Linked DNA regions of Homo sapiens. The protein of the gene in region 4 purifies or fractionates together with the protein of the main gene of each other region. This does not show direct contact. Each region holds a gene or a part of one and is shown on either strand. Other genes may lie near its edges. The genes, in order: NTPCR, CTPS1, SCO1, PPEF1, P4HA1, ACSL3 and AKAP8.

Region 1 (2,772 bases), on a different chromosome or scaffold from region 4:
TGTCTGCAGGAGAGCAAGCCAGGAGGACATGGGCCTGGACGACACGGCCTCGCAGCAAAGTGTGTCAGACGAGCAGTGACGGGCGTGCGGCCGGGCGGGGAGGCTGGCTCCCCCACACCTCCCACCTGCATTGCTCTCCCTCGTGCTCCCCAAATCACCACAACCAACCAATACCGCGATCCATGAGGGACTCCTCCTGTGGAAAAGGAGAGCTGTTCCAGAACACAGAACTGATCTCAGGTTTTTGAAAAAAAAAAAAAAAAAAAAAAAAAAATCAAACAACAACAACAAAAAAACCTCACATGATGGGGAAACAAAAAAAAGCAACAAAGAAGCCACACCACACCTCCCTGGCCAGGCACAGCGCTGCCCAGAGCGGCACACCGCGGACAGCACCACACATGTTCCAGAATCTGAAATCTCAAAAGCCATTCACTAACTTAAAACAACTCAACAGAGCCATGAAACAAATGCCCTGATGAAAATAAGACAACTGCATGTTACATCATCGGCACTTTATACATTACTGTTACCATGAAAAAGAAATGAACAGCAGCACGTCTGATACCATCAGCTGGGCAGATGCATTAAGGTTAAATCTAAGTGTCAAGAAAACCCTATTTCTTTATAATATTTATGCAGCTGTTAAGCGTAACATGGTGGCAGCTTCACAACAAGAACCGTGATCATGCATGCAGTCATGTCTCCAGTATTCTGTGAAAAGCCAGGATACGTTAGGATGTGAGTTTAGAAACTGAGTCCATTCGGTGCATGGAAATCCACCGCGGAGTCACACAATGCTCCTCACTGTAGTCCAGGCGATTGGTGGGCCGCCAGCACCCTGCGGGCTTCACAGGGACGCGTGCTTGTTCTCCAAGCCCCGCAACCCTTACTGTGCACACAACATCGCACACACCTTTGTTTTTGAAATTAAAATGTTTATAGTTATTGCTGCGTCCAGTGTTTTGAGTTATACTGAAGCTTCTCATTTCTACAAGTATATCTTTTATGGTGAGAACGACATTTGGGTAAATTCTGAGACAACTTTTCCCATCTTCAAGACCCCAGGAACCTGTATCCTTGCTGGGGTAGAGGTCCCAAAATGCAGTCCATAGAGTATCACTGGCCTGGTGAACCATCCCTTTTCAAAAGACAATAGTTAGAAGGAAATACTCAATTTTAAACAGTCACACAAATTTCTTCAAAGTATTTAGGATTTGGAAATTTGAGGAGAGGGTTGGGGGAAGGGTATTGTAGAGAATCTCTTGCCCCTTGGAAAGTAAATGGTAATGCTTTTCTAATTTTTTTTTTTGTAAACTAAGAATCAGCAATTAATAAAAGCAAGTGTACTCTATAATCACAGACAGAAGGTTCTTATTTTCAGGTCAGCACTCCCTAGAGGTGCAAACTTTATTTAATTTAAATGCAGTTGTTTGTCTAATGGGAAGCTGATAGGGCCTTGCTGCAGTTCTCTAAGGTGGCCAAATTAAACTTGGCTGGCAGCTCCTGTAATCCTCTTGGGCAACTTTACAGCCAAGCCCCAAGGGCTAAATGGCAGGCCTGGAGCTGTGAGTGTGGCCTCCCCACGGAGGGTGACTCCTTGAGTTCAGTGAGGAAAACCACGGTGCCTGGCAGTGGTCAGCCAGGAGTATGACTGGCCACTCCTTAGGCATCCAGAAGTAGGAAACACAGAAAGCATTCCACAAAACGGGGAATCTCCCCAAAGAGCTAGAAACCCAGGCTGGAAGGAAATGGCAGCGCAGGCAAGAGAGCAAGAGCACCCTGGGTGCTCCTCCATCCCGTTTCTCTGGGGAGGTTCATGAGGTGCTTCTTCAACAGTTATTCTGTTCATTGCTTATCACAGTTCACGAGTTCTCGTGGCATCTTTTGTGGGGAGGAGGGAGGATGAAAGTGACACAGTGTATCTACAACACTAAGGTCACATTAATCAGATAGGAATGCAGTGACGCTCTGCACCGTCTATGAGAGCGGGCATCTCGAGTGTGCATACCGAGGCACAGATGTGCACACACATCCGCAGGCAACTGCACCCACAGAGAAAAGGTGGCAGTATTGGAGTCACCCCAGGATTCTTGGGGGCTGTTTGACCAGCCATCAACAGTGCAGCCATACTTCTTTTTCTTTTTTATCGTGGTACACAACTTTTATATTTACAACTCATGAACTTGTTAATCTGGTCCTTCATCTAGTCAGCTATGTATCAGAAAGGACTTCCTGCAAAATGTTATATTCTAAGCCCCCATTTAGAGGAGGCATCCCTAAACTGACATTTCTTGCTAGAGTTGTTCAAATATTCTGCCAGTATATAGCTAAAGAGTTATTTTCCAGTTCAAGAGTTATTTGGGGGCTGGGCACGGTGGCTCACGCCTGTAATCCCAGCACTTTTGTAGGCTGAGGCAGGCAAATCATGAGGTCAGGAGTTCGAGACCAGCTTGGCCAACATGGTGAAACCCCGTCTCTACTAAAAATACAAAAAATTAGCTGGGCGTGGTGGCGGGTGCCTGTAATCCCAGCTACTCAGGAGGTTGAGGCAGGAGAATCGCTTGAACCCAGGAGGCGGAGGTTACAGTGAGCCGAGATAGCACCACTGCACTCCAGCTCAAGCGACAGAGTGAGACTCTGTCTCAAAAAAAAAAAAAAAAAAAAGAGTTATTTGGACACAGATCAAAATGGTTTCTCCTCTAAAGATAATATTAAAACCATAGCACTTGGTTTTATATAAATCATGTGGCCAATTTGGCATTATTGATT
Region 2 (3,500 bases), on a different chromosome or scaffold from region 4:
GCCTATAATCCCAGCTATTCGGGAGGCTGAGGCAGGAGAATCACTTGAACCCAGCAGGTGGAGGTTCCACTGAGCTGAGATTGCTCCACTTCACTCCAGCCTGGATGAAAAAGTGAAAACTCCATCTCAAAAAAAAAGCAAAAAATCTGAAACTTAAACTTAAATGTGGAAATACTTGTTACATTTTTAATAGTGAATATTTTTAAGGCCGGGCGCCCTCACACCTGTAATCCCAGCACTTTGGGAGGCTGAGGCAGGTGGATCACCTGAGGTCAGGACTTTGAGACCAGCCTGGCCAACATAATGAAACCCCATCTCTACTAAAAATACAAAAATTAGCCAGGAGTGGTGGTGCACACCTGTAATCCAAGCTACTCGGGAAGCTGAGGTAGGAGAATCGCTTGAACCTGGGAGGTGGAGGTCACAGTGAGCCAAAAAGATCGCGCCACTGCACTCCAGCCTGGGCGACACAGCGAGACTCTGTCTCAATTAAAAAAAAAAAAAAAAAAAAAATTGAACAATTTTAATGACAACCTATTCTGCTACAGAATTGAATTTCCTTCACTTGCTAGGCCAGAAATATCTAAAACCTGGCCAAAGCTACATGCTCAATGTATCACCACTAGAATTTCCATACTAAGCACCACACTTAGATACATTACAGGTTCCAAATTTTGGATTTCCTGCATCATAGGTACAGTAACAAAAACACTAAGATCTCTGTGACAGCCTACAACACCCTAGACACCAGGCACCAGAAACAGAAAGTTGAATGAGGTGGCCCTTGCCCTCCAGAAGCTTAGAGTCTGTGAAGGGAGATACACACCACACATGTACACACACACACACACCAGAAAGATGGGCCCATCAGCAGCATACATGCGACACCACACAGGAGCCCAGTGAAGGACGCAGTTAACCCTGAAGGCCAAGGGCCAGGAGGTTTGGCAGTTAAAGCTTCTCAGACAACACTATGTCTTCGCTAGAACCTGAAGGATGAGAGTGAGTAGGAGACTGCCAAGCCAACAGGAAGAGGGGGACATGGGTTCTTAACAGAAATTAGCCAGTGAAAAAGTACAATCATAGGGAGAGTGGAGGGTACTAGGGGAACCGAAAGATACTCCACCCGGCTGAAGCACAAAGTACAACGAGGCACGGAGAAGAGGCAGGAGGGACACAGGTGTTGTTTGGGGAACCAGGAGAGGCAGGGAATGGCCGATGGCAATGGGTTCTTCTGGAACAGCCCACTATCTCTAATTAGAAAATAACAAGCCTCACGAAACTGATCAAGAGGCTTTAGGACAATTAGAAGCAAAAAACAACTTATTAGAGATGGGAATTTCTACTCACTTGTTCAGGCTCAACATGGCAGAACATTGATATTTTCTCCTTCACTGATGTGTCAAGTGGATTTGAGCACCTGCATACAACCTAGCAGTAGAGAACAAGATGGCTTAGACAGAAGGAAAAAATGACAGAAGTAGGGGTTTCTCCTGACTGAAATTAAAACAGACATCACATTGTTAAGATGAACGAAAACGTTAACTCTCAGCACCAGGCACATAATCCATAAAAATATTATGACTCGTTTCAAAGCTAAAATCCGTAAACGCCAAACTGGAGAAACATAAGAGAATGGCAGTACAAATGAATACATTAATGAACTACAAGAGCTCTGGGATTTTCCTCCATTAGTGTTCCCAAGTAGGAGTAAAAATGAGAGTAAAAAGACTGAGAGGAAAAATAAGGTCTGGGGAGTACAAGACCTAACACGCTCTAAGTATGAACATCTTGCAAACTACAGCCCGGTTCAAAGAACTAATCCTATTTTCTCCATCATCAATTATCAAAAGCAACCCAACAAGACAAAGGTCTTGTCTGTCATGATAGAGTGATCTTAACTAGACATAAAAGATTACACTGCAACCAGCTATCAGGAAATCTTACCAGATCTGGGGAAAGCCCAAGTCCTCTAAGTTCCCGAACACTATTCTGGGTAGGTTTAGTCTTCTGTTCCCCTGTTGAACTTGGCTATTTCACAAAAGAAAAAAAAAAAAAAGTTAGTTTCCCTCTGATAAGGAATTTTCAAGTATGACTTTTCCTTGAACCTCTTTTAATAAGGAAATAGATCATTTGGTCACTTGTGTAATTTAGCTTTTATGTTTGTCAAAGTTACACATGCATGCATTTTAGAATCAAATGGTTCTAACCGAGCTTGTAAGCAGTATCGGCCCTCACCCACTCTCCCCTTTCCAATCCCTAGAAACAACCGCTCTTCAACTCTTAACTGATCTTGCTGGTGTGCTACTTCTCCACATTTACTTGGAGGCATTTTCTATTGATTTCCCTGTTAAATGAGGATCCTGCCCCCATTAGACACTTTCCTGTGCCTGCAGTCCTCTTTTGGGTTTACATACTTTTTAAGTATTTAAATACTGTTCCCAAACCATGTGCCACACTTTTCCTTTCTGTACTAAATCATCTTTATTCTTCTCTCACACTTAACAGATACACGTTACACATGGACTTGTAGGATGGAAATCATTTTCTGTTGGACTTTTTCTTTTTTTTTAAATCGAGACAGGCTCTTGTCACATTGCCCAGGCTGGTCTCAAACTCATAGGCTCAAGCAGTCCTCCCACCTCTGCCTCCCAAACTGCTGAGATAACAGGTGTGAGCCACCATGCTCAGCCTCCACTAGAATTTTTAATGAAATAGCATCAATGTCTTTTAGCTTCCAGTATTGTTGCTAAGGGGTCCAGTGGCACAATGATTCTTGATTTTTCTCTTCAGAGCCTTTTAGAACTTCTGCCCCATTAGTCTGAACCTTCACAATAATATGCCTTGGTGTAGGTCATCTGTCATCCAATATGATAGGCACCAAGGGGGCCCTTTCAACCCAGAAACTGATGTCTAGAAATTTCCTTGAATTGTTCAGATAAGGGGTCAGAAAATTTTTTCTGTAAAGGCCCTGATAGTAAGTATTTTAGGTTTTGTGGGCCACACAGTCTCTGCCACAAGTATTCAACTCTACTGTTCTAGAGCAAAAGCAGCCACAGACAGCACATAAACAAGCAGACACAGCTGTATTTCCATAAACTTGATTTCCAAATACGGGGGGGTAGGTTCATGTGGCCCATAGGCCATCATTTGCTGACCCCTGGGGTTCAGATTATACCTCCATTTCTGTGTTCTTATTTTTTGGAACTCCTATTATTTGGACATTAGAACTTCTGAGCCAGTCCTCTAATTTTACCTTTTCTCTCCTATTTTCTATCTCTTGGTCTTTTTGCTGTACTTCCTTGGGTATTTCCTCAACTTACTTTCTCTTAACTTTTTCATTTCTGCTATCTAATTTTTAATTTCCAAGGATTCTTTTCTGTTCTCTCAATGTTTCTTTCTTATAGCATCCAGTTCTTACCTAACGGATATAGCTTATCTCCTTCTAATTTTCTAAGAATAGTAATGACAGGTCATTTTTGGTTTTTTGGTGTTTTTTT
Region 3 (3,500 bases), on a different chromosome or scaffold from region 4:
ACCTTTAGAAAAAGGAACTGCTGTTAAATGTTGGGCTGTCATTTCAGTAGTTTGATGAATCCAGTTGTTTTAAGTGACCTCTACCGGTTCACTTACATGAATTCCAAAAACTTAATAGCAGATACACGCTGTGAATGATTTGCCCTTATTTCAGAACTTTGTTAAGATTGCGTTTTGGGGATGACTAGTATTAATTAACCAGTTTTTTTAAATCAGAAGTAAAGAGTAGAACTTGATACCAGTGTTGAAATTATTTGCAGGAAAATAAGACACAGGTATTTTGACCTGATATGAACTTAGTTATGAAGCAAATTTTTTTCCCCATATGATGCCATGAAAAGTTATAGTATTTAATTTATGATAATAATTTTAAGCTTTAGTATATCTGAGAACTACATGTGACTACTCCTTAAAAATCAATTTAAAATGTGATACAAGTGATTAGAAAATATTCCCTCCAGGTCTTTACTAGATAGTCATAAAAAGATTTGACTTATATATTACAAAGGAGAATTTTCATTTGTTCTTTGTGAATTTCTTCTCCTTTTCCTTTGAATCGTGAAGAAATGTTTGGAGACTCACAGGAAGAAAGTGGCAGTAGAGCTGCTTTACAACTGATACATTTTTTGAAGTAGAGATGGTTGTTTTACTGGCTTCTCATTTTTCACTGTCTCTCTCATTTTTTATTTAGAATTTTCTCCCAAACTGGTTGGCTTGACTGGCACGAGAGAAGAGGTCGATCAAGTGGCCAGAGCATACAGAGTGTATTACAGCCCTGGCCCCAAGGACGAAGATGAAGACTACATAGTGAGTAAATGTTCCAGTTTTAACCCATGGACCAGCTCCCAGATCCCAAATAGTCATAAGGCTTTCAATGACTGACTAGCTTCTGAGAAGAGAGAATACCTAAGATTATTGCAAAGTCCTTAGGAATTTTTTTTTTTTTTTTTTTGAGATGGAGTCTCATTCTGTCATCCAGGCTGGAGTGCAGTGGCACAATCTTCGCTCACTGCAACCTCCGCCTCCCAGATTCAAGCAATTCTCCTATGTCAGCCTCCCGAGTAGCTGGGATTACAGGTGCGCGCCACCACACCTGGCTACTTTTTTATATTTTTTGGTAGAGACGGGGTTTCACCACGTTGGCCAGGCTGGTCTCGAACTCCTGACCTTACCCGCCTCAGCCTCCCAAAGTACTGGGATTACAGACGTGAGCCACCGCATCCAGCCTCCTTAGGAATTTTGAATATTTGAAAGGATAATAGAAGCATGTTTTTTACTTTTTATTTATTTTCGAGACGGAGTCTCACTCCGTCAGCCAGGCTGGAGTGCAGTGGTGCGATCTTGGCTCACTTCGACCTCCGCCTCCCGGATTCAAGCAATTCTCCTCCCTCAGCCTCTCGCGTAGCTGGGATTACAGGCATGTGCTCCCACGCCTGGCTAGTTTTTGTATTTTTAGTAGAGAAGGAGTTTTGCCATGTTGGCCAGGCGAGGCCAGGGGGTCTCGAATTCCTGACCTCAGGTGGTCTGCCCTGCCCACCTCAGCCTCCCAAAGTGCTGGGATTACAGGCCTGAGCCACTGCGCCCAGCCAGAAGCAGTTTTTTAAAAGATGATTGTTTGATTTATATTCACTGTTCTCATAATTCAATTGCCTGTTTTTCTCTTATAGTGGCATATAGGATTTTAGGGCAGTTTAAAACCAGATACTTGGGTGCCATGTTGGAAATAAAGAGAAGCCATCATTTGGAACAACACTTATTTTAAAAAGATTGTGTTGGTTCTCACTGTGTCCCCAGTAGAGGTATCAGAAATTGCTCTTCTGGAGAACCAGTTTTAGGCCATGGAGAACTGCATTTTTAGGTTGAATGAGAATTCTGAAAAGCAAAAGATGAAAGGTTTATTTGCCCATTGACTATATGCCTTGGACAGTTAGGCGTTAAATATGTGCTTTTTAATGATAAGGAACAGAAATTCTGTTGTACTTGTGTAGCTCTTAAATTAACTATCTTCATATTCATCAGCACTGCCCCAGAAGCCTTAAGGTCATGCCCAAGTTACTGTGTTTCTTTTCTTGTCAGTGGTTTCACAGTGAAGCACCAAAAGGCATTAGCACCACCACTATCCACCAATTTTCCTCTCAATTTGGACATTTTTCTCCTATCATATGAAGAGTCGGCGTTGTATTTTAGCATTATTTCAGTATTTTTCTTAGTTGTCATACTCTGTTTTTTCTATAATATTGTTTGGGCAGAGTAATCCTAAGAGCCTTTCTAGCTGTGAAGCTGTCTTTGTAGAAAGAAAGATGGCCAAGACCCTGAGTCACTGATCCAGCAGCTCCCCATGGCCCATCCCAAGAGTTGAGATGCAGAGGGGATGGGATGTCTCACTGCAGTGCTTTGTCTCAACAGCCAACTATGATTTCTTTGTCCCTTTGAACCTGGAACGTGTGTGCCCCTGGAGCCTACAGCCTGAATTAAAAGCAAGGTTCTGGCCTGTTTGCCTTAATTAAGCCTACACAGTAATCCTGTCTTCCAGATGTGGTGCCTCGTAGAATTAGGGAAACTTGGATTCCTTGGAGTAAAAGATGAGAAAAATGAGCACTTTTCTTTAAGCCTTAATTGTAAGGAAAGTAGAGGGACCCTCCTCTGTTTTCCTCTTGCTGCTTCTCTAGCAGAATGAGAGAAGAGCAGAGAGCCACAGTGGCCAAAAGAGGAAACCATAGGAAAAGGACTTTCCGGACTTCTGTCTTTATAGAGAGTTGTATTAACTGGTTTTGAGTTTATCCGATGATGACAGCAGGAATAGATGAGCTCATCAGTCTGATTTCCAGCATTAAATGAGTTATATTAAATTGTTTAAATGTATACAGTCCTAAACTAGGTAACACTCCATAGTCTTGATGCTTAGAACTCATAACTCAGAGTCAGAAAGTCAAATCAGAAAGCAGTTGTACAAATAAACCCAAACAGCCTGCAAAACTTAAATTGAAAACATTCAGTTACATTGACAAGAGATTTTGCTGAAACCAAAGTGCTGCTCAGGGCAAGAAGGGAGGGGGTTTTGGTCAGACTGCTATCACATACCCAACTCTACTCAACTGCCCCTCTGCATTTTCTATTTAAAATACTTTGAAACCTTTAATCGTGTAGCCTGCCTTGCCTGGTTAGTGTTGATTTGGCAAGAATGTATCATATTCATGTCTGCCTGTAACAGCAGTGGGCAGCTAGGTGCCAGTGAGATCATGGAGCAAACACAAGCCTGGGCACTGAAATTTATACTCACAACACAGATAATCCAGAATATGGATATTAATGTTTTTAATTACAAATGAAAACAAAAATATGTAAGTCTTATGGAAACTTCTTGGACCTTGTAGAATGTATCTTTGGCCCCATTTTGAGAAATACTGGCCTACTGCCATAAGAATTTGACTTTTGATGAGATTCGATGAGGAATTCATGCTGTACATTTGCTAAATCATCCAATAGGGGGAGACATTCTT
Region 4 (3,500 bases):
CGTAGTGGCGGGCGCCTGTAATCCCAGCTTCTCGGGAGCATGAGGCAAGAGAATCACTTGAACTCGGGAGGCGGAGGTTGCAGTAAGCCGAGATTGCACCACTGCACTCCAGCCTGGACAACACAGCGAGACTCTGTCTCAAAAAAAAGAAAAAAGAAAAAAAAAAGAAACGGTGCATCCCAGAACAACTTGGGACAAGAAACCAGCTCCTCGGTCCTCACCTCTTTTAGCCTTTGATCAGACACCACTGAAGGAACACAACACACTCCGTTTTAGTGGCTGCAGCTAAACTGACTACAGTGAGCAACTTGCTGGAGGTCACCTACTCAGGGAGCTGAAGGGAAGTGTGTTTTGTGTTTTGGGCCCTGCACAGGGAACATGTAAAAAGTGCAAGAGCAAACTGGATTCACTGCTGCCTTTTATGCGCTCTGTGAGGAAAAGGACATTCTCAACCCCACTGTATGGGACAGTTGCCTTATAAGAACCAAGCCTTTCTGTGTGTCTACTTAGTGCCATGTATCAGAATTTCTGTTTCTGGGGCCAGGCGCGGTGGCTCACGACTGTAATCCCAGCACTTTGGGAAGCCGAGGCAGGCGGATCACCTGAGGTCAGGAGTTTGAGACCAGTCTGGCTAACATGGTGAAACCCTGTCTCTACTAAAAATACAAAAATTAGCTGGGTGTGGTGGCGCACACCTGTAATCCCAGCTACTTGGGTGGCTGAGGCACGAGAATCACTTGAACCCGGGAGGCGGAGGTTGCAGTGAGCTGAGATCACACCACTGCACTCCAACCTGGGTGGCAGAGTGAGACTCCATCTCAAAAAAAAAAAAAGAATTTCTGTTTCTGGGATTAGGGAAGATCAGGGAAATAAACCAAATATCTTTTAGGATAAGGGACAGTGAGGCCCCTTCAAACAACCTAGATGAAGCTCGCCTTCTCTGGTTTCTGTTTGGTACTAGAGAAGACATCTTCTCATGGGCTTCTAGGCCAGACATGCTCTGTGAAGAAAAGACTGTGCTTAGGGGAAGGATGTTTATGGGAATGTCACCAACAATTTTAGCTTACCTTCCCATCATGACAGATTTCATACCCTTCGGGCTTACATTCATGAGACCTGATGAGCATCTTCAACTGGTATTTATTAAGAATCTTGGAAGTAACATCTGGTCCAAAATAGCAGCCCCCTCCTCGGCACGTATTTGGAAAACAGCCATTTTTGCCTCTGGGATCACTCCACAGAATATCAATAATCTTGGAACAACAAACCAGATTTCGCTGTAACTTACAAGTGAGAGTATATCTTTCTAGATTCCAACTTATTTGTCAGAAATATTAACCCAAGGTATCCCAAAGACCACTTCTCATTCTTCCTTGAAAATTGTTTCAGGCCTGGCGTGGTGGCTCATGCCTGTGATCCCAGCACTTTGGGTGGCTGAGGTGGGAGGAGTGCTTGAGGCCAGGAGTTCAAGCCCAGCCTGGGCAACATGGTGAGACCTCAACTCTGCAAAAAATACAAAAATTAGCCAGGCATGGTGGTGCATGCCTATAGTCTCAGCTACTAGGGAGGCTGAGATGGGAGGATCACTTGAGCCTGAGAGGTTGAGGCTGCAGTGAGCCATGATCACTCCACTGCACTCCAGCCTGGGTGACAGACAGAGACCCTGTCTCAAAATTGTTGGGAGCAGGCCCCCCTAAAATCTGGCCATAAACTGGCCCCAAAACTAGCCATAAACAAAATCTCTGCAGCACTGTGACATGTTCATGATGGCCATAACGCCCACGCTGGAAGGTTGTGGGTTTACGGGAATGAAGGCAAGGAACACCTGGCCTGCCCAGGGCGGAAAACCGCTGAAAGGCATTCTTAAGCCACAAACAACAGCATGAGCGATCTGTGCCTTAGGGACATGCTCCTGCTGCAGTTAACAAGCCCAACCTATTCCTTTAATTTGGCCCATCCCTTCGTTTCCCATAAGGGATACTTTTAGTTAATTTAATATCTATAGAAACAATGCTAATGACTGGCTTGCTGTTAATAAATACGTGGGTAAATCTGTGTTTGGGGCTCTCAGCTCTGAAGGTTGTGAGACCCCTGATTTCCCACTTCACACCTCTATATTTCTGTGTGTGTCTTTAATTCCTCTAGCGCTGCTGGGTTAGGGTCTCCCCTACTGAGCTGGTCTCCGCAAAAAAGAAAAAGAAAAAAGAATATTGTTTCATATTCATCTCCTCCATGAATAACCAATACAGCAATAACAATAACCAAGAATCAGGCCTTGCCATTTTTTTTTTGTTTTTTTGGCTTTAAAAATTCCATCACAATTGTTTGACAATTGTTGAATCTACAAGGTTCTTTTCTCTTAAAAGAACTTCATTGTCACATTCAGGGAAGAAATTAGCTCCCCACAATGCCCACACATTAGGTGTGTCTTAATATGTTCAAAGACATAAAGTAGGTCTCCTGCTGTGGCTCTGGGCCAGGTTTTTGTCCTGTTGAGCACATAGCCTGAGGAAGCCCTTGCTGTTTCCCAACACAAATGTGGAAACCTGTTTATCTGAGGGTGTCTCCTAAAGCATCTCCTTCACTTTTCCCCCCTCGATGGTAAGTACATTCTCAGTTTCCGCAATACATTTAGTAAATGACTGGTTTCCATAATGTGTTCTAAATCCACAAGTGTTGTATTATTATAACATTTCCTTTGGGGCGCAGGAGAGGCAAATGCAGGTTACATGATGTCCAGGACTAAAGATCCAAATTTTTAAAATCATTTTTCTGCCAGGCACAGTGGCTTATGCCTGTAATCCCAGCACTTTGGGAGGCTGAGTCAGGAGGAATGCTTGGGTCCAGGAATTCAAGAGCAGCCTGGGTAAACATGGCAAAACCCCATCTCTACAAAAACTTAAAAAATAAAAACTAGCCAGGTGTGGTGGTGCCGGAATGTGTTCCCAGCTACTTGGGAGGCTGAAGTGAGAAGATCCCTGAGCCCAGGAGGTTGAGGCTGCAGTGAGCCATGTTCATGCCACTGCACTGTGGCCTCGGCAACAGAGCAAGACACCATCTCAAAATAAAACAAAATAATATTTTTCATAAAGATTGGAGGCTCCGTCTTTGTGGCTCTCATCTATCTGTAATGTTTCTTTTCTTTTCTTTTTTTTTTTTTTGTGATGGAGTCTCGCTCTGTCACCCAGGCTGGAGTACAGTGGCATGATCTCGGCTCACTGCAAACTCCGCCTCCTGGGTTCAAGTGGTTCTCCTGCCTCAGCCTCCTGAGTAGCTGGGATTACAAGGGCCCGCCACAACACCTGGCTAATTTTTGGTATTTTTGGTAGAGACAGGGTTTTACCGTGTTGGCCAGGCTGATCTCGAACCCCTGACCTCAGGTGATCGACCCACCTCGGCCTCCCAAGGTGTTGGGATTACAGGTGTGAGCCACTGCACCCGGCCTGTAATGTTTCTTTATTGAAACTTCTATAACAGCTTAAAGCGGTGAGAAAAACTCT
Region 5 (3,500 bases), on a different chromosome or scaffold from region 4:
GAGGTTGCAGTGAGCCGAGATTGTGTCACTGCACTCCAGCCTGGGTAAAAGAGTGAGAGTGCATCTCAAAAAAAAAAAAAAAAAAAAAAAAAAGAGGAAATCAACCTAAGTTCTCATTTCACTTGGGTAAATACCTAGGAGCGGGAATGTTGGGTCATATGACAAGTATATATTTACCTTCATAAAAAACTGCCAAACGTTTCTCCAAAGTAGCTACACTATTTGCCCTTCCAACAGCAAAGGATGAAAGTTTCCATTGCTCCCATTCTTACCAGCATTTTGTATTGCCGTTTTTTCCTTAGTTTCTCTTAATATCTTAATTTTCACAATAGACATATAGTACTATCTCATTATGGGTTTAATTTGCAATTCCATAATTACTAATGATGTTTAATGCCTTTATTTTTTTTTTTTTTTTTTGAGACAGAGTCTCACTCTGTCGCCCAGGCTGGAATGCAGTGGCACAATCTTGTCTCACTGCAACCTCCACCTCCTGGGTTCAAGTGATTCTCGTGTCTCAGCCTCCTAGGTAGCTGGGATTACAGGCACGTGCCACCACACCTGACCAATTTTGTATTTTTAGTAGAGACGGTTTCGCTATGTTGGCCGGGCTAGTCTTGAACTCCTGACCTCAGATGGTCCACCCACCTCAGCTTCCCAAAGTGCTGGGATTACAGGCATGACCCACCATGCCTGGCCTATGTTTAACACCTTTTGGGGTGTTTATCTGCTGTTCATACACCTTCCTGCATAGTGTCTACTCAAATCTTTTGCTCTTTTTAATTAGGTTGTTTACTTTTTTTAATAGAGATGGGGTCTTGCTATGTTGCCCAAGCTGGTCTCAAACTCCTGGATTTTCAAGCAATCCTCCAGTCTTGGCCTCCCAAAGTGCTGGGATTACAGACGTGAGCCACCATGCCCAGCTTTGAGTTCCTTATACAGTCTATTTTTTGTCAGATATGTGATGGGGAATATTTTCTCCCAGTCTGTGAAGTCTTTTTATTCTCTCAACAGTGTGTTTGGAAGAGCAGAATTTCTTAATTTTGATGAAGTCTAATTTATCAGTTTGTTCATTTATGAATCATGTTCTTGGCATCATGTCCAAGAAATCTCTGCCTGACCCATGGTCAAAAATATTTTTGTCCTATGTTTTCTTTCAAATATTTTATAGCTGTACATTTTACTTCACAATCTATGAACATTTTTTAAAATAGAAACGGGTCTCACTCTTGCCAAGGCTAGTCTCAAACTCCTGGGCTCAAGCAATCCTCCTGCCTCAACCTCCCAAAATGCTGGGATTACAAACGTGTGCGACCAGACCCGGCCTACGAACCATTTTGAACTAATTTTTGCATACAGTGTCAAGTACAGATTGAGGCTCTAATAAAAAGATTTCATTTTGATGTTTGAGTGCAGATTGCCTTCAGGTCCCACACCTCTCTCCCTTTTGTCCCACATCTGGGTAAGTCTGTAAGAAAGCCCAGGTACTCCCTCCCTTGGTATTGGTGTAAAGTTGAAACCATATAAATACCACACTTGGGGACCAGTATTCCCTCCCTTGGTACTGGTGTGAAGTTGAAACCATGTAAATACCACACATGGGGACCATCAAACAAGTTCCACCTTCTGGTCAATAAAAACCAAAGCCACCCACCCTGTTTCACTCTTGCTTCATCCTGGACTAAACCTAAGTCCTTGACCTTGAGGAGTCCTTTTGCTGTTTACTGTGTGATTAAACTTTATTTCATATCCACTGGTGGATTCATGTCACTTGTCCCAATATTCACATAAATTCCTGGGCAAGGGACTGCCCAGTGTCCAACAGTGGATACTTGGTGCCCAAATAAAACAAAGATTGTTTTTTCTTTGCATATGAATATTCAACTGTTCCAGACTATCCTCTGTTGAACTGCCCTTAAACTTTTTCAAAATGAATTGACAATTTTTGTGTGACTAAATTCTCTATTTTGTTCAATTGATCTGTATGTCTATCTTTTCTCCAATACCACAGTCTTGGTTATTGCAGCTTTAAACTAAGTTGAAATCAGGTAGTATGAATCTTCCAACTTTGTTATTCTTTTTCAAAATTGTTTTAGCTTTTCTAGTTCCTTTGGTTTTCCATATTAATTTTAGAATCGGCTCATTAATTTCTATAAGAAATCCTCTGAGATTTGGACTAGAAATGTGCTGAATCTATAAATCAGTTTGAGAAGAGTAGGTATCTTAATACTGAGTCTTCTAATCCATGAACATGATATAATCAGTGTTTCATAATTTTCAACATACAAATATTACACACCATTTGAAAAGTTAATACTTAAGTATTTCATGGTTTTTAGTGCTAATGAGATGGGAATTTTTCACTTTAGTTTCTAATTGTTCATTATTAGTATATAGAAATACAATTTACTGTTGTATATTGACCTTCTAAGCTACAACTCTGCTGAATTAACCTATTCACTAGAGCTTTTTTGAAGAGTCACAGACATGTTGTCTGTGAATAGAAACTGCTCTTTGAAGCACACTGTTTAAAGAATGAAGACAAGCCAACAACTGGGAAAAAATATTTCCCTATCACATCTAGCTATTGCACTCCTAGGCATTAATATAAGAGAAAAGAAAGCATATCTCTCTCCAACAACTTGTACATGAATGCTCATAGCAGCTTTATTCATAATAGTCAAAAAGTGAAAACAATCCAAATGTCCATCAAAGGGTAAATGGGTTAAAAAAAATCATGGTATATTCATAAAATAAAATACTATTCAACAATAAAAAACTATGAACACATAACAACATGGATGAATCTCAAATTATGCTGAGTGTAAGGAGATTCCCCGTGCTAAAAAAAAAAAAAAAAAGCGTATATACAATTCCATTTTTATAAAATTCTAGAAAATAAAAACTAATCTTAAGCAACAGAAAGGAAACAATGGTTTCCTAGGGATACAGAGAGGGTAGTAAGGAGCAAAAGAAGGGATTACAAAAAGTCATAAGGATACTGCCGATGCCCCGGCTAGAGTGCAGTAGCGTGATCTTGGCTCACCGCAGCCTTAATCTCCAGGCTTTGGGTGAGTCTCCCACCTCAGTCTCCCAAGTAGCGGGGACTGCAGGCACACAACACCACACCTGGCTTTTTAATTTTTTTGTAGAGACAGGGTTTTACCATGTTGCGCAGGCTGGTCTTGAACTTCTGGGCTCAAGCAGTCCTCCTGCCTCGGCCCCCCAGAGTGTTGGGATTACAGGTGTGAGCCACTGCGCCTGGCCAAGTATACTCTTTTTTGAGACAGAGACTCATTTCGGTCACCAGGCTGGAGTACAGTAGCACAATCACAGTTCATTGAAGACTCAACCTCCCCAGCTCAAGCAATCCTCCTGCCTCGGCCTCCCAAGTAGCTAGGATTACAGGCAGGCACCATCACACCCAGCTAATGTTATTTTATTTTGTGTAGAGATGAAGTCTTTCTATGTCGCCCAGGCTGGTCTGGAACTCCTGGGCT
Region 6 (3,500 bases), on a different chromosome or scaffold from region 4:
GAAAGTCTGGCCTAAACACCAAACAAAGTGACAGAGAAGCTGGTGCAGCTTTGAATGACTTAAGAGGGGCTGTTCATCCTTACATAATATAGGGGCCTGGGAATAAGACAAGGGAAATGGGGCAGCAGTGATTTTCTGGCTCCTTATAACATAGGCTGAGTTTGTTTGGAAATGATGGGAATTATTGTCGGGTACCTAAATGCTTACGTCAAGAATAATTACATAGTTACTTCAAAGTCAAATATAAATAATCAGTAGTTTCTTTCTATAATTATAGTTTCTTTAGTATCCAACTTAAATTCTTAGTTCACTTAAAAATGACGTACAATTTAAAGTTGTGGAGGAAACATTATTTTAAGTCATTAAAGTATACTTCACAGTAATGGACCTAGCAAGCAAAATGCAGCACAGACAAGGAAAACTTCCTGGTGCAATATCGAAAGTCAAATAGCCAAACAAAAACTCCCAAACGTTGCATGGTCTTTTTGTGAGCAAAGAATGTGGTACTGTATATTTTTATAAGATAAAGTTAGGACATTTTGAAAAACCATTTCAGACGGTTGTTCGTTTATTTTGTGAGTAGGTTTTAGTTCAGAATTAGTAAGATAAGCAAAGCAATATAAAGAATATCTTACAATTTATATGAGTATCTAGATATATTTCTGCTTTTAAAAATTATTTTTGTGGAAACTTTATTTTTAAACTAATTGTGGTTCGATTTTAAAAGTTTGATCTTGATAGGATACATCTTTTTGAAAAATTCACAAAAGGTTTTTTCCTTCTTGCTGAATCACATCCACAGTTGAAGAGTACTTCTTTTAAAATGCCTTAATATTGCTAGAAATGTTAATCTAATGCTAAGTGAATATGTAAGGCAGCTGTTATTATTAACTATGTTAAACTCATTTTTATACATTTAGGAAATCATGGATCGGATCTACAAAAATGTCATGAATAAAGTCAGTGAAATGAGTAGTTTTCAACGTAATCTGTTTATTCTGGCCTATAATTACAAAATGGAACAGATTTCAAAAGGACGTAATACTCCACTGTGCGACAGGTAAGTAAAGACTCTCTACCTCCTTCTTTCTCCTCTTGATAATTTAATCATTTAGTTCACATTAATAGCCCAATTAATTGAGATAGTTATAAGAAAGAAATATATTTCATAAAGTCAAGAGAACTCTTTAAAAAAAATCCATCCCAGGCCAGGCGCGGTGGCTCATGCCTGTAATCCCAGCACTTTGGGAGGCCGAGGCAGGTGGATCATGAGGTCAGGAGATCGAGACCATCCTGGCTAACACAGTGAAACCCCGTCTCTACTAAAAACACAAAAAGAAATTAGCGGGGCTTGGTGGCGGGCGCCTGTAATCCCAGCTACTCAGGAGGCTGAGGCAGGAGAATGGTGCGAACCCAGGAGGCGGAGCTTGCAGTGAGCCAAGATTGCGCCACTGCACGATCTGTCTGCCTGGGCGACAGAGCGAGAATCCGTCTCAAAAAAAAAAAAAAAATCCATCCTGGCTGAACACGGTGGCTCACTCCTGTAATCCCAGTGCTTTGGGAGGCCAAGGCGGGCAGATCACCTGAGGTCAGGAATTCAAGACCAGCCTGGCCAACGTGACAAAACCACATCTCTACTAAAATTACAAAAATTAGCCAGAGTGGTGGCATGTGCCTGTAGTCTCAGCTGTTAGGGAGGCTGAAGCAGGAGAATTGCTTGAACTCCCTCGGGAGGCAGAGGTTGCAGTGAGCCGAGATCGTGCCACTGCACTCCAGCCTGGGTGACAGAGTGCGAGACTCTTGTCTCAAAAAAAAAAAAAAAAAAAAAATCCATCTTGACATGGGAGGATTGCTTGAGGCCAGGAAATCAAGACCAGCCTGGGCAACATAGCAAGATTCCTTCTCTGCTTAGCTGGGCATGGTGTCATATATCTGTAATCCCAGCTACTTCAGGGACTGAAGTAGGAGGATTGTTTGGGCCCCCAGTGGGAGGATTATTTGGGCCTGGGAGCAATGACTGCACCACTGCACACCACCCTGGGTGAAAGTGAGACTCTGTCTCTTTAAAAGACAAGCAAACAAAAAACCTTTGTAATAGTATGAGCAGTTTAAAAAACCTGCAATGTCATTAAAAGTGTGTTTTCACTTAAGATTTTGCTATTTGTGAGTTTATATTTTCTGTGAACACTTAGGGAGTTTTAATTATTTTGAGAAATAGTTTCTCTTTTGCTTTTATATTTATTTCAGTATGAATATAATTAAATGTTTTGTATTTAAAGCTTTAAATGATCAGTTTTGTTCCAGCTTGTATTTGTGTAGTGTTAATAGAGTACATAGATTTATGATTTGATCATAAAATAGCTTAGAAGTTAGAAAATGGAAGTATGACATTCAAAGTATTTTTTATGGTAATATTAATATAGTTTTCAGATGCTTCACATAATTTAGAACTTTGTAAGTTTTTTTCCTGCCTTACGTTAGTTATTTCTTCAGTGAGTTGTAAAGTCGGCCCTCTGTATCAACAGGTTCCACATCTTTAGATTCAACCAACCGTGGATCAAAAGTATTCTGGGGAAAAAACAATAAAATATAACAGTGGAAAAGAAAATACAGTATAACAACTATTTACAATGAATTTATATTGTATTAGGTATTATAAGTAATCTAGAGATAATTTAAAGTATTTTGGAGGATGTGTGTAGGCTTTATGCAAATACTATGCCGTTTTATATAAGGGACTTAGGCATCTGAGGGTTTTGGTATCCAGAGGACTGGATGCCAAGGGATAACTGTAAAAGCTGATTTGAAAAGTCTGTTAATACCATTTTTAAAAAATTGTCACCGTGTAGTCTTCACCTTTTGCAAAGATTTTTTTTTTTAAGTACTACCTCTCCTTTTTGATCAAGGCAGTATGCAATCTTTGTATTAGTGTATTTTCAGAAACATCAATTAGATGTTTAACTTGTTTCCTTTTTTAAATGCTTCACAGATAATTTACTAGATTATTTTTAACAAACAATTCAAAGCTTGAATTAGTGAAACTTCAAAAACAGATTGTGGTATACAAATTATACACATTTCTAATAAAGTACATTAAAGCAAAAATTAATTTGATTTTAATACATTTCATAAAGATGATAGAATTGTTCAGTATTAATATATGATAAATATTTTATGTAAATAATGATATAAAAGTGGCCATAAGCAAGGGTTTTCCTGTCACTATACAAAACTAAACCTGACAATTCAAATTCGAATATCACTTGAAAAGCTCTTAAGAGGAAATAATAAATTCTTTACCTTGTTGAACTTCAAAAAATTAACATTTGGGGCTCAAGAGACTCTCCAAATTGGCTGTGTGACCTTGGATAAGTAACTTAATCTCAAAATCTCTCATATCAAAACTGGGGGATTAGTTTAAGTGATTTGGAAAATCCCATTCAGTTTTAAAATCCTGTGGTTCTCTAATTTTTTTCTTTAGCTTTGTTTTCCGGAAAGTT
Region 7 (3,500 bases), on a different chromosome or scaffold from region 4:
AGTGTTTTCTCTGGGGCTTCCTTTTGTCCAGTTCCTTCAGTCGCCTGCCCTGGGCTGTGCTGTGGGCCTCTGTGGTGGGGATACTGGCAGCTGCACTGCACATTGCTTCGTGCCTGCGAGTGTGTGACAGCAGACACCTGCGGGGTCGGGAGCACCCAGGCCCACTGGGTCTTTGAGAGGCGGGCGCCCTTCAGCAGGTCTCTTCATGTCCAATGCAGGAGACCAGAGGGTCTGCAGCAACAGCAGAGCAGGCTTAAATCCCTCATGGCAGAGCGGCCTGAGGTGCCGCGGCCTGGAGCTCACCCTGAAGCCACTCGTTTCTTTACCTGTCCTGTGGGTCTTTCCGTAGCTGGTTACCCCAAGGATCATAGGCTGGCTCCTCAGTGGCCCTGCTCCCATCCATTCTGAAGGCCCTTGGCTTAGATGTTCCTCCTGTTCAGGCTTTGCCAGCCCTCTGCGGTCCTCCCCCCCGCGACCCGCAGCAGTCCTGTCCATAGCACGGGGCGCCCCGAGCGCTTAGCGGCACAATGCTAAAGCAAAGGTGACATGTCTGTTGCGCGCAGGTCCTGCTACCTACCCGGGATGACTTTGCTATTAAACAGCAGTCATAGTTTCAGGCAGTGACCTCTTGCCAAAAATCCCACACGCCCTTTTGAGAGGCTTCTGAGCAGCGCACGCCGGTCGCCATCTTCGTGGGACAGTCTCGGGACTGGCATCAGGGGTAGGGGTTACAGTTCAGATGCTTCTCCAACCTTTTTTCAGCGTCCGTCCCTGGCCTCATGCTGGGATGATGGCCGCGTGGCTCTCCGAGGAGCTCCTCTGCTGGCCCCGGGGGACGGACGGGAGGACCAATTGGTCTCTTCCCAAATTTTTTTCTAGGATTGCTTCCCACGCAGCCCTGGGAAAGCCCTAGATTGACGGTTTTTGTGAGTGGAAGATAGAGGTCGGGCCAGCAAGGACTGTCAGACCTGCTGAGGCCCTAGTTCAGACGGGGCCGCCAGGACGCTCGTCACAGTCCACCTAGAGGTGGGATAGAGGGCGGCGGAGCAGCTGCTTCACTTCCTGAGGCCTTCAGCTGCCGCCTCTTCATCCGGGGAGAATTGGCTTCTCCTGTGATATTGGGAGAAGACCCCATCGCAGGGCATGAGATTGGACAAGCAGAATGGGGAGGACAGAGGGAGCAGGGGGCTGTGGTGCACATGGGGTGGGCAGGCTGTGTCCCTAGCCCATCCTGGCCGCCTCAGGCCATGTGGGGAGTTTGGTGACTACTCCGGGCTCTCACTCCAGGCCCGTGTCCACCAGGAGTCTCTGACAGTGCCTTGGGGCATCCTGGACCCTGCCGCGTGGTGCAGGCAGTGGCAGGGCACAGGGTGCGGTGGCCAAGCTGCAGCCCCCCGACCAGGCCCTGGAGCTCAGCTCCTTTGCAGGCCACTCAGAGCGTCTCGAAGGGACTTGTCTGTTACAGGAGAGAAGGAGGACGAGGACGAGGATGTGAAGAAGAGAAGGGAAAAGCAAAGGAGAAGAGACAGGACGCGGGACCGTGCAGCCGACAGGTGAGGCGCGGGCACACGACCCCACAGGAGGAGGTGGACTCGTGCGGTGGAGGCGCTGCCGAGCTCACCTGTCCTCGCTCCACAATGCTGGGGGCCTGGTGGCCTGACTCCTCTGGCCAAACCAGTGGGAGGCAAAACAGTAAACAATTGGGAGTGCAGAAAAGACCATCACTCGTGCTCCCAGCACACGAGCTACCTGTCTTCTAGGATGGCTGGGACGTTGCTTTGGTGGTTAGGTTTCTGTTCTTGCTTTAGAGGATTGGTGTTTGACTCCTGTGTCTCTATTCCTCTGGAATCCCAGCCTTGCTGGTGGGTCTGTGTGGTCCATAACTGCTCAGCAGCGGGCTCTGTTACTCTCCTGCAGGCCTGAGGGGCATCCCTGCCCCCTAGCCTGGTGTCTGGCATCTCAGACACTGTCCTGTGTTCACCTTATCCAAATCCAGACCACCCCTGGAGTTTGACACAGCTAGGAGACAGGTAGAGAGATGATCCTACCATCAAGATTTTGTCCCACAATAGAAAAGGATTGCAAAAATGTTGAGCCCAAAGGATGTCATTGTGAGCACACCATGTGCCTGCCTCTCCCTGCCAGGAGTTAAGTGGCTTCTGACTAGAAACTGAAATCACCAGTGATCATGTGATGCTGGGGAATCCTTGACCTTAAGGTTCACATGGGACAGTGATTTTCTTTTTGTTTGTTTGTTTCTGAGATGGAGTCTTGCTCTGTCGCCCAGGCTGGAGTGCAATAGCATAATCTCGGCTCACTATAACCTCTGCCTCCTAGGTTCAAGCGGTTCTCCTGCCTCAGCCTCCCGAGTAGCTGGGATTACAGGCGCCTGACACCACGCCTGGCTAATTTTTGTATTTTTAGTAGAGGTCGGGATTCACCGTGTTGGCAAGGCTGGTCTTAAACTCCTGATCTTGTGATCTGCCCGCCTTGGCCTCCCAAAGTGCTGGTATTACAAGCGTGAGCCACTGCGCCCAGTCTGGGCAGTGATTGTCGTGTTCAAAGAAATGCTTAGTAAAAGGGGCCAGATGCCGTGGCTCACACATGTAATTCCAGCACTTTGGAAGGCTGAGCTGGCGGATCGCTTGAGGCCGGGAGTTCAAGACCAGCCTGGTCAATATGGTGAAACCCATCTCTACTAAAATTACAAAAATTAGCCAGGCATGGTGGCAGGTGCCTGTAATCTCAGCTACTCGGGAGGCTGAGGCAGGAGAATCACTTAAACTGGGGAGGTGGACTTTGTAGTGAGCCAAGGTTGCACCACTGCACTCCAGCCTGGGCGACAGAGCAAGACTCTGTCTCAAAAAGAAAAAGAAACGGGCTGGGGGCAGTGGCTCACGCCTGTAATCCCACCACTTTGGGAGGCCAAGGCAGGCGGATCACCTGAGGTTGGGAGTTCGAGACCAGCCTGACCAACATGGAGAAACCCAGTCTCTACTAAAAATACAAAATTCGTCCGGCATGGTGGCGCATGCCTGTATTCCCCGCTGCTCGGGAGGCTGAGGCAGGAGAATTGCTTGAACCCAGGAGGTGGAGGTTGCAGTGAGCCAAGATCACACCACTGCATTCCAGCCTGGGCAACAAGAGCGAAACTCTATCTCAAATAAAAACTCCATCTCAGTGAGCCGAGATTGTGCTACTGCACTCCAGCGTGGGCGACGGAGCAAGACTCCATCTCAGGAACAAAAAAAAAAAAAGAAAATCACTGTTCCATGTGAACCTTAAATCAAGGATTCAAAAAAAAAAGAGAGAAATGCTTAGCAAAACGAAGCCAGGAACCAAACGCAGAACTGTTTCTTCTTAAGTGGTACAGGAACATTGAAACCCTTGTTATTTTAAACAGATAAATGGATAGAGTAGATGACTTTTCATGTCACATGGAAACTGAGATGACATTTTCTTTTTAATTATTTTTAAACTTAAATAATCTAATAAAGAGA

The links.
Region 1: the proteins of PPEF1 (region 4) and NTPCR purify together in Homo sapiens (affinity purification with mass spectrometry; one large-scale study listed by BioGRID and IntAct). This does not show direct contact.
Region 2: the proteins of PPEF1 (region 4) and CTPS1 purify together in Homo sapiens (affinity purification with mass spectrometry; one large-scale study listed by BioGRID and IntAct). This does not show direct contact.
Region 3: the proteins of PPEF1 (region 4) and SCO1 purify together in Homo sapiens (affinity purification with mass spectrometry; one large-scale study listed by BioGRID and IntAct). This does not show direct contact.
Region 5: the proteins of PPEF1 (region 4) and P4HA1 purify together in Homo sapiens (affinity purification with mass spectrometry; one large-scale study listed by BioGRID and IntAct). This does not show direct contact.
Region 6: the proteins of PPEF1 (region 4) and ACSL3 purify together in Homo sapiens (affinity purification with mass spectrometry; one large-scale study listed by BioGRID and IntAct). This does not show direct contact.
Region 7: the proteins of PPEF1 (region 4) and AKAP8 purify together in Homo sapiens (affinity purification with mass spectrometry; one large-scale study listed by BioGRID and IntAct). This does not show direct contact.

The regions. Positions count from the first base shown.
Region 1 is NC_000001.11:232,981,611-232,984,382, reverse strand, and holds the end of NTPCR (cancer-related nucleoside-triphosphatase), read right to left. Parts: 3' UTR 501-2,772; downstream 1-500. Other genes in the region: PCNX2 (pecanex-like protein 2), read left to right, coding at 1-79. UniProt on the Homo sapiens protein: Has nucleotide phosphatase activity towards ATP, GTP, CTP, TTP and UTP. Hydrolyzes nucleoside diphosphates with lower efficiency.
Region 2 is NC_000001.11:40,989,696-40,993,195, reverse strand, and holds part of CTPS1 (CTP synthase 1), read right to left. Parts: intron 2,032-3,500; coding exon 1,948-2,031; intron 1,432-1,947; coding exon 1,351-1,431; intron 1-1,350. UniProt on the Homo sapiens protein: This enzyme is involved in the de novo synthesis of CTP, a precursor of DNA, RNA and phospholipids. Catalyzes the ATP-dependent amination of UTP to CTP with either L-glutamine or ammonia as a source of nitrogen.
Region 3 is NC_000017.11:10,684,034-10,687,533, reverse strand, and holds part of SCO1 (protein SCO1 homolog, mitochondrial), read left to right. Parts: intron 1-691; coding exon 692-807; intron 808-3,500. UniProt on the Homo sapiens protein: Copper metallochaperone essential for the maturation of cytochrome c oxidase subunit II (MT-CO2/COX2). Not required for the synthesis of MT-CO2/COX2 but plays a crucial role in stabilizing MT-CO2/COX2 during its subsequent maturation.
Region 4 is NC_000023.11:18,801,645-18,805,144, reverse strand, and holds part of PPEF1 (serine/threonine-protein phosphatase with EF-hands 1), read right to left. Parts: intron 1,254-3,500; coding exon 1,068-1,253; intron 1-1,067. UniProt on the Homo sapiens protein: May have a role in the recovery or adaptation response of photoreceptors. May have a role in development.
Region 5 is NC_000010.11:73,086,867-73,090,366, forward strand, and holds part of P4HA1 (prolyl 4-hydroxylase subunit alpha-1 isoform 2 precursor), read right to left. Parts: intron 1-3,500. UniProt on the Homo sapiens protein: Catalyzes the post-translational formation of 4-hydroxyproline in -Xaa-Pro-Gly- sequences in collagens and other proteins.
Region 6 is NC_000002.12:222,923,536-222,927,035, forward strand, and holds part of ACSL3 (fatty acid CoA ligase Acsl3), read left to right. Parts: intron 1-920; coding exon 921-1,060; intron 1,061-3,481; coding exon 3,482-3,500. UniProt on the Homo sapiens protein: Acyl-CoA synthetases (ACSL) activates long-chain fatty acids for both synthesis of cellular lipids, and degradation via beta-oxidation.
Region 7 is NC_000019.10:15,366,288-15,369,787, reverse strand, and holds part of AKAP8 (A-kinase anchor protein 8), read left to right. Parts: intron 1-1,465; coding exon 1,466-1,553; intron 1,554-3,500. UniProt on the Homo sapiens protein: Anchoring protein that mediates the subcellular compartmentation of cAMP-dependent protein kinase (PKA type II).